2 separate regions of the Homo sapiens genome follow, and region 2 is linked to region 1. The links come from fine-mapping of genetic effects on gene expression. Tissue or cell type: whole blood. Region 1 holds a variant in brackets; the other region holds the start of a gene. All regions are shown on one strand. Distances are between the middles of the regions.

Region 1 (8,099 bases):
CCCTGATCCTAGTCTTGCCTCTGAGGGGTCCATCATCCTTGTCTGTCCCCCAGACCTCCCACGCCAGCCCCTGCTCCCACCCTGCCTGGCTGCCTCGTGCCTCTGGCCCAGCTGGGTAGGTAGGGATTTGCATAGCTGCTCCCCAGCTCCTCCATACCTCGGCTCCCCACACAGCACTGCTAGGCGCCCCTGCAGGGTCCTCCCTCAGCTCAGAGGCTGCCCTACTGGCTGAGGTGCAGGCTGGTGCCAAGAGAGCATGCTGCTCTGTCAGCATGAGGCAGTGAGCAGGGCTCTGGGCAAGGGTGGCATCCAGGAAAGCCCTTGAAGACTGAGGGGCGCTTTGCTGGTTGGGCCAAGGGAGGAAGGGCCTGCCTGGCAGAAGGAACAGCCTGGGCAAAGGCCCCAAGATGGGAAAGCCTTGGTGGTTGGGGCATAGAATGGGGGGGCAGTGGGGCCGGCCAAGACAGGAAGGGCCTTGAATGTGAGGGTGAAATGATGGGGTGTCCCTGGGGGCCTTACTCCCAACTCAGATCAAGTCCTTTGGTGGCAGGGGCTGCCCCGGTCCTCTGACCCAGGGCAAGCTCTATGAGCGGTGGAGCCCATCCTAGAGATTTTCATAGACCAGGTTAAGTTCGCCATCATCTTCGAATCTATGCGGTCTCTCCTGGATAGAAAAGAAGAAAGGGAGGGAAGGAGAGAAAGAGAGAGAATGACCATTAAGAATGAACTTGCACTAATTTAGTTTTAGCCAGAGGGCAACAGATCACTTCCTGTGTAGCTTTGATGGGGGGCCTGCCCTCTGTCTCCAAGCCCACCTCCCCAGCCTCTTCCCCCACCATGCTGCCCCCACCCCTGCCCATTGCCCTCCAGCCACATGGGCCTGCCCTTCCAGCCTCAGAGCTTCCCCCACAGCTCTGCCCTCTGCCTTCTGCCCTATGTGTGGGATGCGCCTCCTCCCACAGACACACCTGTTCCATGACTGCCCCCTACTCACTCTGCCTGCGGGCTCATCATAGGGTCCCAGGGACCCCCTCCCTCCCTCCCCACCCTGGCTGGTCCCTCCCAGAAGAACACCCCTCACAACAGGGCTACAAATGCCTCTGTGTGTCCATGGGGTCAGCGACCTATTCCTGCAGACTATGGCTCCCAGAGGGTAGGGACATGCCTAGTTCTCCTGTCCAGCACCCCAGGGCCTGGCACAGGGTGGGCACTGCCGGAGATGTCCCTGCTTTCACTCAGGGTCTAGTTGAGGGCTGAGTATAGAAAGGGCTTTGAGAACAGGCGATTTAACAAATAGTGCCAGCCCGAGCCAGAGAAGGCCAAGTGCCAGGCGCCCGCACTCCCTGACAGATGTTCCAAGAGGCCTGTGGGCTCCTGTTCTGGCTGAACAACGCCTCACGCTTGACGGTGCTGGAAGCTCTGGTGCAGATGTTATTCAGCTTGGAACACATTTGAATTCAGAGGCAGTTGGTATTGCAGGAAAACACTGCTCATCCACTTTACAGATGAGCAAACAGGTTTAAGAGAGAAAGTATGGGCCGGGCGCGGTGCCTCACACCTTTAATCCCAGCACTTTGGGAGGCTGAGGTGGGTGAATCATGAGGTCAGGAGTTCGAGACCAGCCTGGCCAACATGGTGAAAACCTGTCTGTACTAAAAACACAAAAAATTAGCTGGGCACAGGGGCGGGCGCCTGTAATCCCAGCTACTCGGGAGGCTGAGGCAGGAGAATTGCTTGAACCTGAGAAGTGGAGGTTGCAGTGAGCTGAGATCGCGCCACTGCACTCTGGCCTGGGTGATGGAGCAAGACTCTGTCTCAAAACAAAAACAAAAACAAACAAACACACACACACACACACACACACACACACAAAACAAAAACAAAAAAAAAGAGAGAAAGTATGATTGGGTAATATGCCTGAGGCCCTATCATGACAATCACAGAACCCTGACCAGGCCAGCCCAGCTTCTACCAGCTCACACTCTAGCTCCAGACTTTAGCCAACACCAACCTGGGGGCAGCTGGAAGCCTAACACCCCTGTCTGACTGACCATGTGGACACTGTGCCCAGTGATAGTTACAGTGGCTCATAGTGCATGGGCACAGCTGGGTCCCAGGCAGCTCTCTCAGTACATTCTACCCTCACTGAACATCTATGAGGTGGGTACTGTTAGGTTGCTCAATCTGCACACAAGGAGATTCAGACACAGAGAAGTCAGACACCTCGGCCAGGGCTGCACAGTGGCTAAGGGACAGAGCAGGAACTCAAACGCACCAGTCCTCTTAACCAGCAGGCCAGCTGCCACCAGGAGATGGCTGGGATTCCACAGCAGGTGGCTCACTTCCATGTCCCATTTGCCCCCCCACTTCACCAGTGATGGGAGGGTCAGATGGAGCAAGAAGCCAGGCTTGGTGCCCCAGCGCCTGTGTACCTGGGAGAGGGGGCTCTGCTTGGCGGTGGGTGAGCTGCCATCCTCATTCTCGATGCAGGCATAGACCTCGGTCTCGCGGCGCTGCAGAGCCTACAGGAAACGGGGTGCCAGGATCAGGGGCAAGTGTGTAGAGGGGCAGTCCCTGGCCCCAGCAGCCAGCCCCCTGCCTGTTACACACCCCACCGTGGGAGCCCAGGGGAGGGTGAAGCCCAGCCACACCTTTGCACCTGCCACCCCCTTTCCCAGAGTCACCTTTCCCCTTCCCTGCCTGTAAAGGGCTGACCCCTCTCTGTTCTCGGCCACCTCCCTAACCTCCCTTAAGGACCTCCAGTAGAGCCTTGTATTCCACCTGGAGGGTTCTATCCAGGCTTCCACCTGGCTGGCAAGAGAAAGGGCCAGGCCTCCTCCTGCTGTCCCTGCCTGTCCCTAGGCTCTTAAGGGCTTGGCAGCCAGCAGCCCCCTGCATGATACCTGTGGCCACTGCTCCAATAGGATGCCCCCATGACCTCTGCCTTCACCCCCCTGTTCAAAGCCCCGGCCCCTGTGAGGGTCCTCCCACCCACCCATACCCTCTAGCTCTCCCCAACCCCCACCCCAGCCTGTATTCAAGGATAACCCAGGCACCCACTGGGGTCACACTCCCTGGTCATCGAGCCTGTGCCCTGCTGGGGGATTCCAGAGTCCAATCCTGGTTCTCAGCACACCCCTCATCCCCCTTGCCTGTCACTTTCCTTTCATTCCCCTCAGCCACCCCTCCTGGGCCACCTGGGCTGCTGTCATCACCCATATGCGCCTCCCTGGAGGTCTCAAGCTCCTGCCACCCACTCTCTGACCACGGTCCCCCCATAGCCCAAGCCTCCTCCCAGGAAGCCCGAGTCAGTATTGAGCTCAGCTGGGCTTGGAGGCCCTGTCCCTGGCCTCA[C/T]GGCTCCTGCACTGGGTCATGTCGGAGTCCTGCTCCCACCAGCATCTCACCAGATGGGAACCCCTTGAGGGCAGGGACCATGCCTAGTCTATCTCTGGGTTTCTGATTCTACAGCTGTGCTTGGCACAAAGGGAGCAGCACCAAATGAGCTATGGTAAGGGGGCTTCCCCGTCACTCGGGTGTGTCCTAGGCCCACTCACTCTTGGCCCAGCTAAGAAAGGCCTAGCCAGAGACCTCAGGATGGTAGAAAGAACCGGGGCTTTAAAGTCAGACAAGAGTAGGTTCGAATCTCGGCTCTGACTGCGCCAGCCAAAGGCAACCCCTTAACCGCTCCATGCCTCAGTTTCCACGTCTGTAAAATGGGAATAATCACATCTATTTTGCAGGTTCAATGCATGATTAAATGAGATACTGTGCACAAAGGGCCACACACACAGTCAGGGAAGTAGTAGGTGCTTAATAAACTGCTGTTGAATGGTCAAGAGAAGCATGAGGCCTGCCCACCTCCCCTCTCTGGGATCACAGACCAGACCCTCCCTCAGAACCTGTTGGACTCCGGAGCAGAGCCCACCAACAGCCTAAGCAAGAGCAGAAGCCTTTCCTTCCTGAGTGTACGTGTCATATGGATGCCGGCTGGTTGCCAAGGAGGCGGTTTCCCTGGCAACAGGCAAGCAGGGGTTGCTGAGGCAGGCTGGAGAGACAGGTGGTGCTCAGAGGCAGGAGGAGGGCGGGAGGCGGGAGGGAAGGAGGGAGGGAGGCAGGCGCCAAGAGGCAGCTGGGCATGAAAATCCAAGTAATAAACCATTTGGCACTTGGGAGACCCTCACTTCAAGGGCATCAGACATGGGGATGGTGGGGCGGCCCTGAGGACGAGTTCAAGGGGTCTCTGAGCCAGAAACAGGCTGGGTCTGGGGAGAGGGGCTTCCAACCTGCTTCCTTGTAGGAAAGGGACCAGGGCTGCCCCAGGAAGAAGCCTCATTTGGAATGGAGGGAAACTTCCAAGTCCTGCCCTGCCTTGTGCGGCCTTCGTGCCTGTCCGGAGCACCAGCCACCCCAGCTGGTCTGGCACCCAGGATGGGAATGTTCCTCTGTGGTCCTGTGCCCCCAACCCTCCACCCACCCAGGCCCAGACCCCTTCTAAGTCTCACAGATCTGACAGTCTCTCTGAGCTGGATGATTCTGGTCACAGAGAAAAGGGAGGGGAGCAGTCTCCTTGCCCATGTCTCGGCAGGGGAGTAGATCTGGGGTTCCCTCTCCCTCCTGTCCAGCTCAGCCGGGCTGCCCAGAACACATGAGCCCAGAGAGGGCAGGTGATGCAGGGCCAGAGAAGACTAGCCTGCCCTGGGATGCTGCAGGCCCCCAACCCATACAGTGGGGGAGTCGGGGAATAGGCGAGTGGGCGGTGGTGCAGTGGGCAGGGCAGGAGCAGCTGCGGGGCTGAGAACAGGGGAGGCTGCGGAGGTGGCCACCAATTAGCAGCTGCTGAGTGAGGCCTTGACAAGTCCTGACCCGCTGGGTGCATTTATATGCAGGGTATGACCTGCATCACCAGGCTGTGAAATGCAGGGTGCAGCCTTGGCAACAGGACACCCTTTGAGCTCCTGAACCATCCCCTCCTGGCCCTCCCTTAGGTATGCCTGCTGGGAGATTGCACAGGCCTTGGAATGGGCCACTTGTGGGGCTGGGGCTGGGCTGGGCTGGGGGTTGGGGGCTGGGGTCTGGGAGGGTGCTGGGCTGTGGCTGGGCTGGGTGTTGGGGGCTGGGGGGCTGGGCTGGGCTGGGCTGGGGGCTGGGCTGGGCTGCGGCTGTTTGTCTGGGATCCAGGCCCCCCAGGCCCTTTGCCTCCTGCTGCCCAGTGGGCAATGGTGCTGACCCCAGTGATCATCCAACTGGCAGAGGTGTGAAGTCAATGCTGAGGCCTTCTCCAGGCAGGCTGAGGCCAGAGCTGAAGTTAGTGTCCCTGGGCCTGGACCTAGTCTGAGAGTCCTGGGCATTGGGGGTGATGGGTGAGATCTGGGGGTGTTGTTCGGGAAGGAACACACTCCGTGGAGAAGCAATTCAGCTCTAGACCAGGCAGTGGAAATGGGGAGCCCCTGAAGGCTTTCCTCACCATGCATCAGAGTCGTGTGTTAGAAAGGTCCCTCCGGCAGCAGCTCAGAGCAGGAACGGGAGCAGGAGGGCCTGGAGGCTGAGAGTAAGATCGAGGATGCTGGGCCAGGCTGGGCTGGGACAGAGCCGCCGGGTGGGTGGGGGTTCTGAGTACTGCTGCTGAATGAGGACGCAGATCACATCCTGACGCCTCACATTTGCTACTGAGTGTCCCCACTTCCCTGTGCTGGGCCCCGTGGAAACCCGGACACCCTGGGAGGTAAGAACAGGCTTCTGCCCATCATATAGTAGGTGACCCCTGAGCACTTACTGTGTGCTGGGTGCCAGGAGGCTCTAGATTGACAATAATCACAGTAAAAGGTAGCCATGAAGGCACTGGAGAGACTCAAAGAAGGAAGATAGGGAGGTTGGGATGGGACAGGAAAGGGAAGAGGGGGCAATTTTGAAAGGGAAGTCAGGAAAATGCTGCACTGAAAGGTCCCATGAGGGTAGAGAGCTGAAAGAATGAGGGAGCGGGCTGGGTGTGGTGGCTCACCCCTGTAATCCCAGCACTTTGGGAGGCTGAGGAGGGCAGGTCACCTGAGGTCAGGAGTTCAAGACCAGCCCAGCCAACATGGCAAAACCCCGTCTTTACTAAAAATACAAAAATTAGCCGGGCGTGGTGACGGGTGCCTGTAGTCCCAGATACTCAGGAGGCTGAGGCAGGAGAATCACTTGAACCCGGGAGGTAGAGGTTGCAGTGAGCCAAGATTGTGCCACTGCACTCAAGCCTGGGCAACAGAGTGAGACTCCGTCTCAAAAAAAAAAAAAAAAAAAAGAGGGAGCAGCCGTGGCCAGTGTCAGGAAGGCCACCCTGGGGCGGAGGGAATAGCCAGCACAGAGGCCCAGGGCGCTGACCTTGACCCTTGGTGAGAGGGGAACCTCTGCAGGACCGTGGCGGTCGTAAGAACTGCTTCACAGACCTCCACTTCAAGGGATCGGAACTGACCAAGGGCTCAAAACCGCCCAGCTGCTGGGCCTTGAAACCTGTTACCACATTTGCATGGAGGCCACATGCCTCTGACCTGGGCACTCCTCACACCCCTAGGCAGTGTGACGGTTTAGGGGCTTCCTTCCCTTGGGATCAGACCTGCTCCGCGGAGGGGCTGCTCTCCCAGTCTTCCCCAGCCCCTTCCTCATCTTCTCTCCCAGAGGGTTTCTCTAATAAACCCCTTGCTCACCTAACCCCATCTTGGTGTCTCTGTCTCAGAGGGCTCTGAGCAGAGGGCCATGATCTGTCGATGGCTTACCAGGATCATTGGCTACTGCCAGGTGAAAAATGAACAGGGGTCTTGGGGGTGGGGGTAGGGGGACATGGGGAGGGGAAAGGATAAAAATAGACCAGCTGCTTAGAGACCAACTGCAGGACTCCAGGCAAGAAACGGGAGTGGCTCCCACCAGTGTTAGCGCTGGGGCAGTGAGAAGGGCTGGATTCTGGATACGTTTTGAAGCAAGATTTGTTGATAGATCAGATATGGGCAGTGATTGAAACACAGATGGAGAGAACAACTTCAACATTTCCAGCCTGAGCAACGGGAAGGATGGAGCAGCGATGAGGAGACGTGGGTAAGAGGCACTCAGAGGGGTAAAAAGTTGGAGTTCGAGGCTGGGCGCAGTGGCTCACATCTGCAATCCTAGCACTTTGGGAGGCTGAGGCAGGCGGATCATTTGAGGTCAGGAGTTCGAGACCAGCCTGGCCAACATGTTGAAACCCCATCTCTACTAAAAATACAAAAACTAGCCGGGTGTGGTAGTGCGCACCTGTAATCCCAGCTACTCAGGAGGCTGAGGCAAGAGAATCACTTGAACCTGGGAGGCGGAGGTTGCAGTGAGCCGAGATCACGCCACTGCACTCCAGCCTGGGTGACAAGAGCGAGACTCTGTCTCAAAAAAAAAAAAAAAAAAAAAAAATCGGAGTTTGGTTTGAGAGAGATGTTGTTTAGACATTCAAGTGGGGTTGACTCTGGTGTTCAGAGGAGATGTCTGGGCTGGAAATATAAACTTGGGAGTTGTCAGGATATAGATGGTCTTCAGAACCTTGTGGCTAAATGACATCACCCAGTGAAGGGAATGAAGAAGAAAAAGGGTCCCAGGATGGGCTCCAACATTTACTCCAATCTTTACAGTTCAGGGTTCCACTGGTTCTGGAAGAGGAACAAGTGAAAGGGGCTGAGGAGGTGTGATGGTGAGGCAGGGGAGGATCAGGAGAGTGTGGAATGTTCTGGAAGCAAGTGAAGAAAGTGTGTTTGAGGAGGAGGGAGAGCTCAAGGGTGTCAGATGCCGTTGATTCATCAAGGAAGGTGAGGACCGAGAACTGCCCATTGGTTTAACAATGTGGAGTCAATGGTGACCCTGAGAAGGAAGGTTCTGGCGAAGAGGAGGGTTGCAAGCCTGTAGAGAGAAACAGAAAGGAGAGGGAGAGGGGCTGAAGGTGAGAGGGCTCTGTCAACGCTGGAGGAACTCTGTTCTAAGGTGCTGTGGAGAAACGGCAGGGAGCTGGAGGGGGATGCGGGCTCAAGGAATTTCAGATGGAAGAAATCACAGCATGTTTGCAAGCTGTAAACCAATATTGTACTGTTAACCCTGTTTTGCAGATT
Region 2 (8,099 bases), 44 kb after region 1:
CAGAAGAAGGCAGGCCTGGAACTCAGGTCTGTCCAGCCCCAAAGTCCTTGGGGAGGACTGAGGCCCATGGAAGCTGAGTTGCAGCTGCTCCTGGAAAAGCCAAGCCCCCAGCAATTCCTGTCTTGGGGAGACCACCAGTGGCTGCCTTTGAGAAAAGCAGGCTTTGCAGAGGGGTCAAGAAGCCAGAGGACAGGCCCAAGTCCCGGCTCAAGTGGGAGGAGGAGGATGGCTGGGAGCAGGAGCAGGTACCCAGGATGAGCTGGAGGCCGTGGGCTCACCAACTGCACCTCAAGTTTCCATGGCTCTGGCGAGGCTGGCAGGTGGCTGACACTCACTGAGGACTAATGACATACTGGGCACTCAGTCCTCAGGATGTGTTTAGGCAGGCAGTGTTATCACATCCATTTAACAGAGGAGACAATTGAGGCATAGCGATAGAAGTAATCTGCCCAGGGTGCCTGGGCAAGTAGCAGAGCTCAAATTCAAACTGGGCCGGGTGCGGTGGCTCACGCCTGTAATCCCAGCACTTTGGGAGGCCAAGGTGGGGGGATCACCTGAGGTCAGGAGTTCGAGACCAGCCTGGCCAACACGGTGAAAACCTGACTCTACTAAAAATACAGAAATTAGCCAGGCATGGTGGTGGGTGCCTGCAATCCCAGCTACTCAGGAGGCTGAGGCAGGAGAATCGCTTGAACCTGGGAGGCGGAGGTTGCAGTAAGCCGAGATGGTGCCACTGCACTCCAGCCTGGGCAACAGAGCGAGACTCCGTCTCAAAATAAATAAATAAATAAAAAATCAAACTGAAGATGAATGCCCCTGGCCTGTACTCCTAAGCCAGCATCCTCTCGCAAGTTCAGGGATACGATGCAGAATCAGGGACGCTGGCCTTCAGTGACACCCCTGTGGACACAGCTGAGGGATGCAAGCTGGGTTGGTACTGACAGGTGGCAGAGCTGGTTGCACCAGGCTGATGGTTAAGGCTGATGGTTACGGTCAGGGGAGGTTTGGAAGATGTGGGAGGGGCAAGATTCCTTCCAGCAAACCCTCAAAGCTCTGAGACGAGAAGGCAGGGGTGTGACATGGAGTGACAGATAGATGAAGGGGGATGCACAGGGGTAGGACAAAGAGCGGGTTGGGGGTTGGGCACAGTGGCTCACGCCTGTAATCCCAGCACTTTGGGAGGCCAAGGCGGGTGGATCACCTGAGGTCAGGAGTTCGAGACCAGCCTGGGCAACACTGTGAGTCTCTATCTCTACGAAAAAATTTAAAAAATAGCTGGGTGTGGTGGCACACGCTGTGGTTCCAGTTATTCGGGAGGCTGAGGTGGGAGGATCATTTGAGTGAGGGAGGCAGAGGTTGTAGTGAGCTGAGATTGCACCACTGCACTCCAGCCTGGTGGACGGAGCGAGACCCTGTCTCAAAAAAATAAAAACAGGACGGGCACAGTGGCTCACGCCTGTAATCCCAGCACTTTGGGAGGCTGAGGCGGGCAGATCACCTGCGGTCAGGAGTTCAAGACCAGCCTGGCCAACATGGCAAAACTCTGTCTCTACTAAAAATACAAAAATTAGCTGGGCATGGTGGTGGGCACCTGTAGTGCCAGCTACTCGTGAGGCTGAGGCAGGAGAATCACTTGAACCCAGGAGGCAGAGGTTGCCGTGAACCAAGATGGCGCCATTGCACTTCAGCCTGAGTGACAAGAGTGAAACTCTCAAAAAAAAAAAAAAAAAAAAAAATCATGGGTGGGGGTTTGTCTGCTGCTCCAAGGGACTCTAGGACACCGTAAGGGTGTTTTCACCTCTTGTGAAAGAACAGTTTCTCTTTTATGTAATGTTTGTTGCAATACCGGGTGGGAGGGGGTGGCACTGGGAATGTTTTGTTATAGTTGAGACTGTTACAAAAGAGCTTTTCCCCAGTAGCACCCCATAAAACCTCTTACTGCTCGGTTACCAGGGTGTGCTGGGTGTCTTTTGGGGAGGAGGAACCACACAAAGGGAAAGGATGGGAATTGGGGGGAAATTAAATTAAAAATGACTGTAGTTGAGACACATTGACACTAACAGGCTGCATTTCCGGGGTCTGGCCGTGTTTGCACCAACTGTCTGGGGTGTGGGGCGAGGCGTGCACAGGATTAAAGGAGATGGTGTCCTAGGGCTCTGGGCTGCAGCCTGGGGAGGTACACACAGGTCAGCCTTTGCCTCCCCAGGGTAAGTTTCCGGTGAAGAACATTCTTTACAAGTAAGAGGATCCTCTGAGCCTACTGGCCGAGGGGCCCAGCTTGGGGCTGAGGCTGGCCTGGGGCTGAGGCTGGCCTCTACTTACCGGCTAGGTCTTGAGCAAACGAACTGGCTTCCCTGGGCCTCCTTTTCCCTGTCCTTAAAATGGTGCAGGTGAGGACAATAGGAGCCCCAAGGGGTGCTGTGAGGGTGGCCAGTACGTGCCCTGCTAAGGGCTCCATAAAGCCTAATTTGTGGTCATGAGAGGGGGTGCAGCAGGACAGGGTGGGGGCAGCTCTTGAAAGCCCCATAAACTAAGAGAATAGAAAGGAAGGCACCCTGTCTCCACAGTGGAGGCCACCCCTTTGGCCAGAGGGAGGGTTGGCTGCTGCCCGGCCAAGGAGGGGCAGAGAGAATCTGGCAGAATTCACTGAGCCCTCGTGCTGGCAGCCCTGGAATGGGACCCTCCTGGGCCGTCCCTGGCCTGATGAACTGGCCCTGAGGCTACCTACCCCACAGCTTGGCTCGGATCCCGGCCACCCAGCTTCCAAGAAAGCCTGGAACCAGGAAAGGAGCGCCGCTGGCGTGGAAAGACACACTTGCATCCTAAAACACTTGGCCTCTGGTTGTGTTTCAGGAACTGGGAGGTGAGACCCTTTCTGGTGACTGACAGTTTTGTGCCTCTGGGCGCAGAGCCCTGTGGCTGGCCCTGGTATCCCCCCCTCCCCCCTCTCCCCGCTCTCCCTGGCCAATGCCAGCAACAACCCAGAGGGTAGCCCCACCACTTGCCAGGTTCAACGCAGTGTCCCCCGCAGCAGCCACGTGAGGTTCCTCGGATGGGGAGCTGTCCCTCCCCCCTGCCCCGCCCCTGGCCCCAGCCACACAGCGCCCACCCTCCTTGTTTAAGGGCCAGGAGGCCAGACTGCTGGGGCAAAGCTGTCACAGCAGCGAGGGAGAGAGCGCTGTCCCCCTCCCCTTCAAAAGCCACCTTGGCAAGGCATTAGCTAAACATCTTCTCGGTCCCAGAAGGCTTCCCCTGTGAAGTCTGCAGCGTTCAAACGACAACCAGCAAATCCCCAGAGACAGGTCCCTGGGAATTAGCTGCGCCGGGCGGGATGAAAGCCGCTCTGATGTTCTGGAGCGAGAGAGTAGAGAGAAGGAGGAAGACAGACACTACCTGCCAGTCGCAGGGTCCCGGGCAGCAGCAGCACGCCAAGGAGGAGCCAGGGGGCTGCGGGGAGCCCAGGAGGGCGTGGGAGGCCTGGCAGGGCCCGCCACCTCACAGGCTGGTTCTCCATCTGGGGGCCTGCTTGTCTGCGGCGACTCTTTAGTTCACAGGAGGGGACGGCCGGCGCTGACAGCTTCCCCTTTGCTTTCCCCACGAAGCTCCTCCCTGGCAGCCCCTGACCTTCCGCTCAGAAGCAAAGCTGGAACAGCCCAGCAGGGTGGCCGCCAGATGAGGAACCTGGCACTGAGACTGGTCCAGGCCACACAACCAGAAGAAGAGCTGGAGACGGGACCCAAGCCTCCCCACTCCAACCCCTGGTGGGCTTCACCCTGTCTCGGCCCCTTTCCAGCAGGGGCCCCGTCCAGGAGACACTGGTAACTGTGCAGAGGGATCATGGGATTTCCATGAGTGACTTCGGGCCTTGGTTTAGCCTCTCACTTCTGAAACACTTTTAAAACGACCACAAGCATGTTCACACAAACTTCTCTAAAATATTCTGAGAATCCCTTAATAATGTGTTTACCAAAGGTAGGTTTTTTGGTGAGGGGTGGTAGGGAGGCTGGGGTGAAGGGCAGGAGCCTCATGTTCCCAGCCCTAGAGAGGGCCAAACACCCAGGGCAGGTGAAAGGCAGGCTGCCCATCATTCACCCAGCGAGAACCTCTGTGGGTCCCCTGCAGAGGCCCAGGAGACGCCTCCTCTCTGGTCCATCTCTAACGTCAGCTCCTCCCTGTGGCTGCCCTAAAGCTTAGCTCACTCGGCCTCCCAACTGTGAGACCCTCGAACTGCTTCCCCATTGGCTGCAGGTCACAGCCCCTGCTCTCACTTCTAGCAGCATCAGCCGGGGACAGGAATTGTTTGCTGCCGGGACCCCCTTCCCCAGCAGACTGGGAGCCCCTCACCCTTGGCACCCACACATCTGCCTGCGTGTCTGGAGTGGCAGAGGAAAGGGGCTGGGGTGTGGTGATGGCTGGTGGAGCTGGAGGCACCTGGTACATGGAAGACGCAGGCGGGAAGGTGGCTGAGTTTCAGCGCATGCTGAGCGCTTACCTCCCTTCTCTGCAGGTGTCCCTTCACTCACCAGATAAATGTGATGATCCCAGTTGTACAAAAGAGAAGACCTCGGCCCCAGGAGGCAAAACAACATGCCTAGGATCAGGGCAGGTCTGTGGGGCGGGCATTTGAACTGCCAGTGGTATGATGTCCGAGCCTTCTCCCACCCTGCTACTGCCTGCTCAGGTGTGTCCAGCTGCAGCCCCCGGTGACGGCATCATGAGATCCATTTCAGTTCTTTGCACACATGCTTTTCCCTGGGCTGCTCCAAACATGAACAGTGAAAGCCTAAAGACGTTTCCACCAATGCCACGAGCACTGGGAGGCTGGCAAGAGCAGGGGCCGCCCACCAGGGGAGGAAGACATATGAACAGGAGAAGTTTCCTACCGCGCAGGGGGCAGGCGGGGACCCCAGTGTTATTGACTGTTGATCCATCACAGTGATACATGCTCACATATGTCACAGTGAGATGCAGACCCGCTGCTTCACGCTATTCCTGGCTCCTGGGAGTAGCAGGTTGTCTAAGCACCTTGATGCCATGGTGATAGACCTCGTGTCAATGCCTCAGGGTACACGGGGAGCATTGGAAAAGCATCGGTCTGTGCCTCTACAAGTCTCATTACGACTTGGCACTGGGAGGCAGCTGAATGCCAAACTGCCTCGGAACAAGGGAGCCTGCTCTTCCAGCCCTGGTGCCGCCTCCGCTCCTGCCCCTGTGCCAGCTCACTGACCCTACCTCTCAGCCTGTCACGGTGCCCCCCACACCCCAACTCTGTACCTCGGACTCCCGGGAGTTCTGCCGCCTCTGAGTCTGGGTCTAGCCTGCTGCACACCTGGTTTCCACGCTTGCCTGCCTGAGCTGCCTGTCTTCCTCCCCTCTCCTTCTTGAGCCTGGCCCAGGGGGTGCAGGAATGGACGGATGGGTGAGCATAAGGCAGGGAGAAGCCTTCCTCCAGGCTTGATATGAAGGCAGGTGCCCAACACCACGCTGGTGCACAAGAGGCCTCAAGGGAAGGGGTAGCCTCTGGGAGGCAGGGTGGGAGGAGGCGTGCATACTCCCCAGGCAGGCCCTGGGCTGTGGAGCGCAGACATGACTGGACAAGAAGCAGCTGAGGGTCCCAGCTCATTGCCCAGTTTCTGAGACGCTCTGCAGCCACGCAGCCTCCTGGGGAGAGGCAGGGACGCACCTTGGCAAGGAGCCCAGCAGCCCTGGCTGCGCTGTCGGGGCCTCGTGTCTGGCCCTGATCCTCCTCGGGAGCCAGGGGGATAGAAATAAAACCGCAGCGCATCCAGGAGCCTCATTTCTACCAAAACTTTCTAGCACCTCTCATGTGCTTCCTCTCCTGTGCCCTCAGCCAGAGCTGTGAATAAACAGTAAAGGCCCCAAAGGCTGAAGGCGGAGCAGAGGAATGAGGAGGCTCTGTGGGTGTCCCAGGGGCAGCTTCAGTGGCACAGCCTTCGAGCTAGGCCTTGGCAGCTGAATTTGCAGGTGAGGTCCCTGGGGACCACACGTCTCAGCCACTGGCTTTTGCCCAGACCTCCGTCCATTCCCCGTTTATCCGTGCATCTATGCCTCACAGTATACTGAACACCTGCCCTGCCCTGGGCCCTGGCCTCACGGAGGCTGTAGAAGTGAAAGAGCCTAGCCTCCCTGGGAAGCCTAGGGGCACGGCAACCTCAGCAGAGTGAAGCAATAATAGAGCAGTTCCGGGAAGCTTCCAAGCGCCTGACACTGCTCCAGGGGACCTGCTCTCCTTGCCAGTTTAATCCTCACTGCAGCCCTATGGGGCAGGCACTCTAATCACCTCCATTGTACAGATGAGGAAACTGAGGAACAGGGAGGTTAAAGTAATTTCTGAGTGGCAGCCCTGAAGGAGGTGGAAGCTGGGTGGGGAAATGGGGGAGCCCAGGTGTCCCCTGCAGTCCCCAGGGGCCTCCTCGACACCAAGACTAAGGCTTTCCAAATGAGACCACAATTACTGGCCTCTGTTTTCTTTTTCTTTTCTTTCTTTTTTTTTTTTTTTTGAGACAGAATTTTTCTCTTGTTGCCCAGGCTGGAGTGCAATGGCGCGATCTCGGCTCACCGTAAACTCTGCCTCCCGGGTTCAAGTGATTCTCCTGCCTCAGCCTCCCGAGTAGCTGGGATTACAGGCATGTGCCACCACGCCCGGCTAATTTTGTATTTTTAGTAGAGATGGCATTTCTTCATGTTGGTCAGGCTGGTCTCGAACTCCCAACCTCAGGTGATCCGCCCACCTCAGCCTCCCAAAGTGCTGCGATTATAGGTGTGAGCCACTTTGCCCAGCTGGTCTCTGTTTTCAGTTTAGTTCCACAAACACTTATTATGTGCCTACTGCGTGCCAGGCATTGGGCAGACAAAACATAAGTCATGGTTTTGCCCTCAAGGCGCTCCCTGTCCAGGGAGAAAAACAGATCCCCTACCCACGACCACCTCCAAGATTTCCTTTTCTTCTTCTTTTTTTTTTTTTTTTTTTTTGAGACAGGCTCAAAAAAGACTCCACTAGGCTGGAGTGCAGTGGCATGATCTCAGCTCACTGAAATCTCTGCCTTGCGGGTTCAAGTGATTCTCCCGCCTCAGCCTTCCGAGTAGTTGGGATTACAGGCGCCTGCCACCACACCTGGCTAATTTTTGTATTTTTAGTAGAGATAGGGTTTTACCATGTTGGCCAGGCTGGTCTCGAACTCCTGACCTCAGGTGATCTGCCCGCCTTGGCCTCCCGAAGTGCTGGGACTACAGGCGTGAGCCACCGCACCCGGCCTCAATCCAGGATTTTCAAATGCCCCAGCCAGCAAGTGGCAGCTGAGAGGCCTCCAGCCGGGACACAGTGAGGTCCTGAGCTCTTCATGGTTCCTTTCTGCACAGGAAGCAGAAGTGCCGTGGGAAGGAGATCCCTCTGCTCCCCGCTGCGGCTGCGAAAATCACTTCCTTCCTCCCCAAAGACTCCAGCACCAAGAGGAGCTGAGCCGACCAGCAGGAGGGACCCCTCAGAATGACCCTCTGAGCTGGCTTCACTGAGGCAAAAAGGGTTCCAGGGTACTCAGGGGCCGATCCACCCTCTCTCTCAAACACCCTCACTATCAAAAAGGGCAGCCTCCATCCTAGGAGCAGCCGGGTTTACCTCTGGGGCCGTCTTGTGCCTCGCAGTGGCCCTGCAGCTGGGTGGTGCTGACCCCACCAGAGGCAGGCAGACCCACCTGGAGGCCATCTGCCCGCAGGCTGCCCGGGCTGGAAGCCTGGCCTGGCTTGTCTCCAGAATCCCCTCTCAGTTCCAGCTGCTTGTATTTTTGGCTCTTAAGCATTTGTTTGATGCCAGACACAGTTCTAAAGGCTTTTCTTGTACTTCAGCCCTCATAGAAACCTTGTATGGGAGGTGTTATGACTGCTCCTGCTTCGCAGATGAGGAAACTGGAGTTCAGAGAACACAAGCCACTTGCCCAAGGCCACACAGCGAAGACGCAGTGGAACAAGGGCTCCAGCTCCCGGGACCTGGCTTTAACCACTGCGCTCTCCTGCAATTCACCTGGTCCTTTAATCAGGGCAGATATTATACGCCTCAGCTGACATATTTAGTGAGGGAGAAA

What was found. PIP is the estimated chance that this variant, and not a neighbour inherited with it, causes the effect.
Region 2: it holds the start of NFAM1, and the variant in region 1 is fine-mapped to the expression of NFAM1 in whole blood (TOPMed, PIP above 0.99).

Annotation. Positions count from the first base shown.
Region 1 is chr22:42,384,557-42,392,655 of GRCh38, forward strand. It overlaps NFAM1 (NFAT activating protein with ITAM motif 1), which reads right to left. Exons shown (of 6, transcript NM_145912.8): 5 at 2,433-2,522; 6 at 1-664. The coding sequence ends at 605. Among named protein-coding and RNA genes, the nearest start is that of LINC01315, 19 kb to the left of the region's middle. The variant C/T (reference allele first, on the strand shown) is at 3,355.
Region 2 is chr22:42,428,844-42,436,942 of GRCh38, forward strand. It overlaps NFAM1 (NFAT activating protein with ITAM motif 1), which reads right to left and starts at 3,560. Exons shown (of 6, transcript NM_145912.8): 1 at 3,394-3,560. The coding sequence starts at 3,514.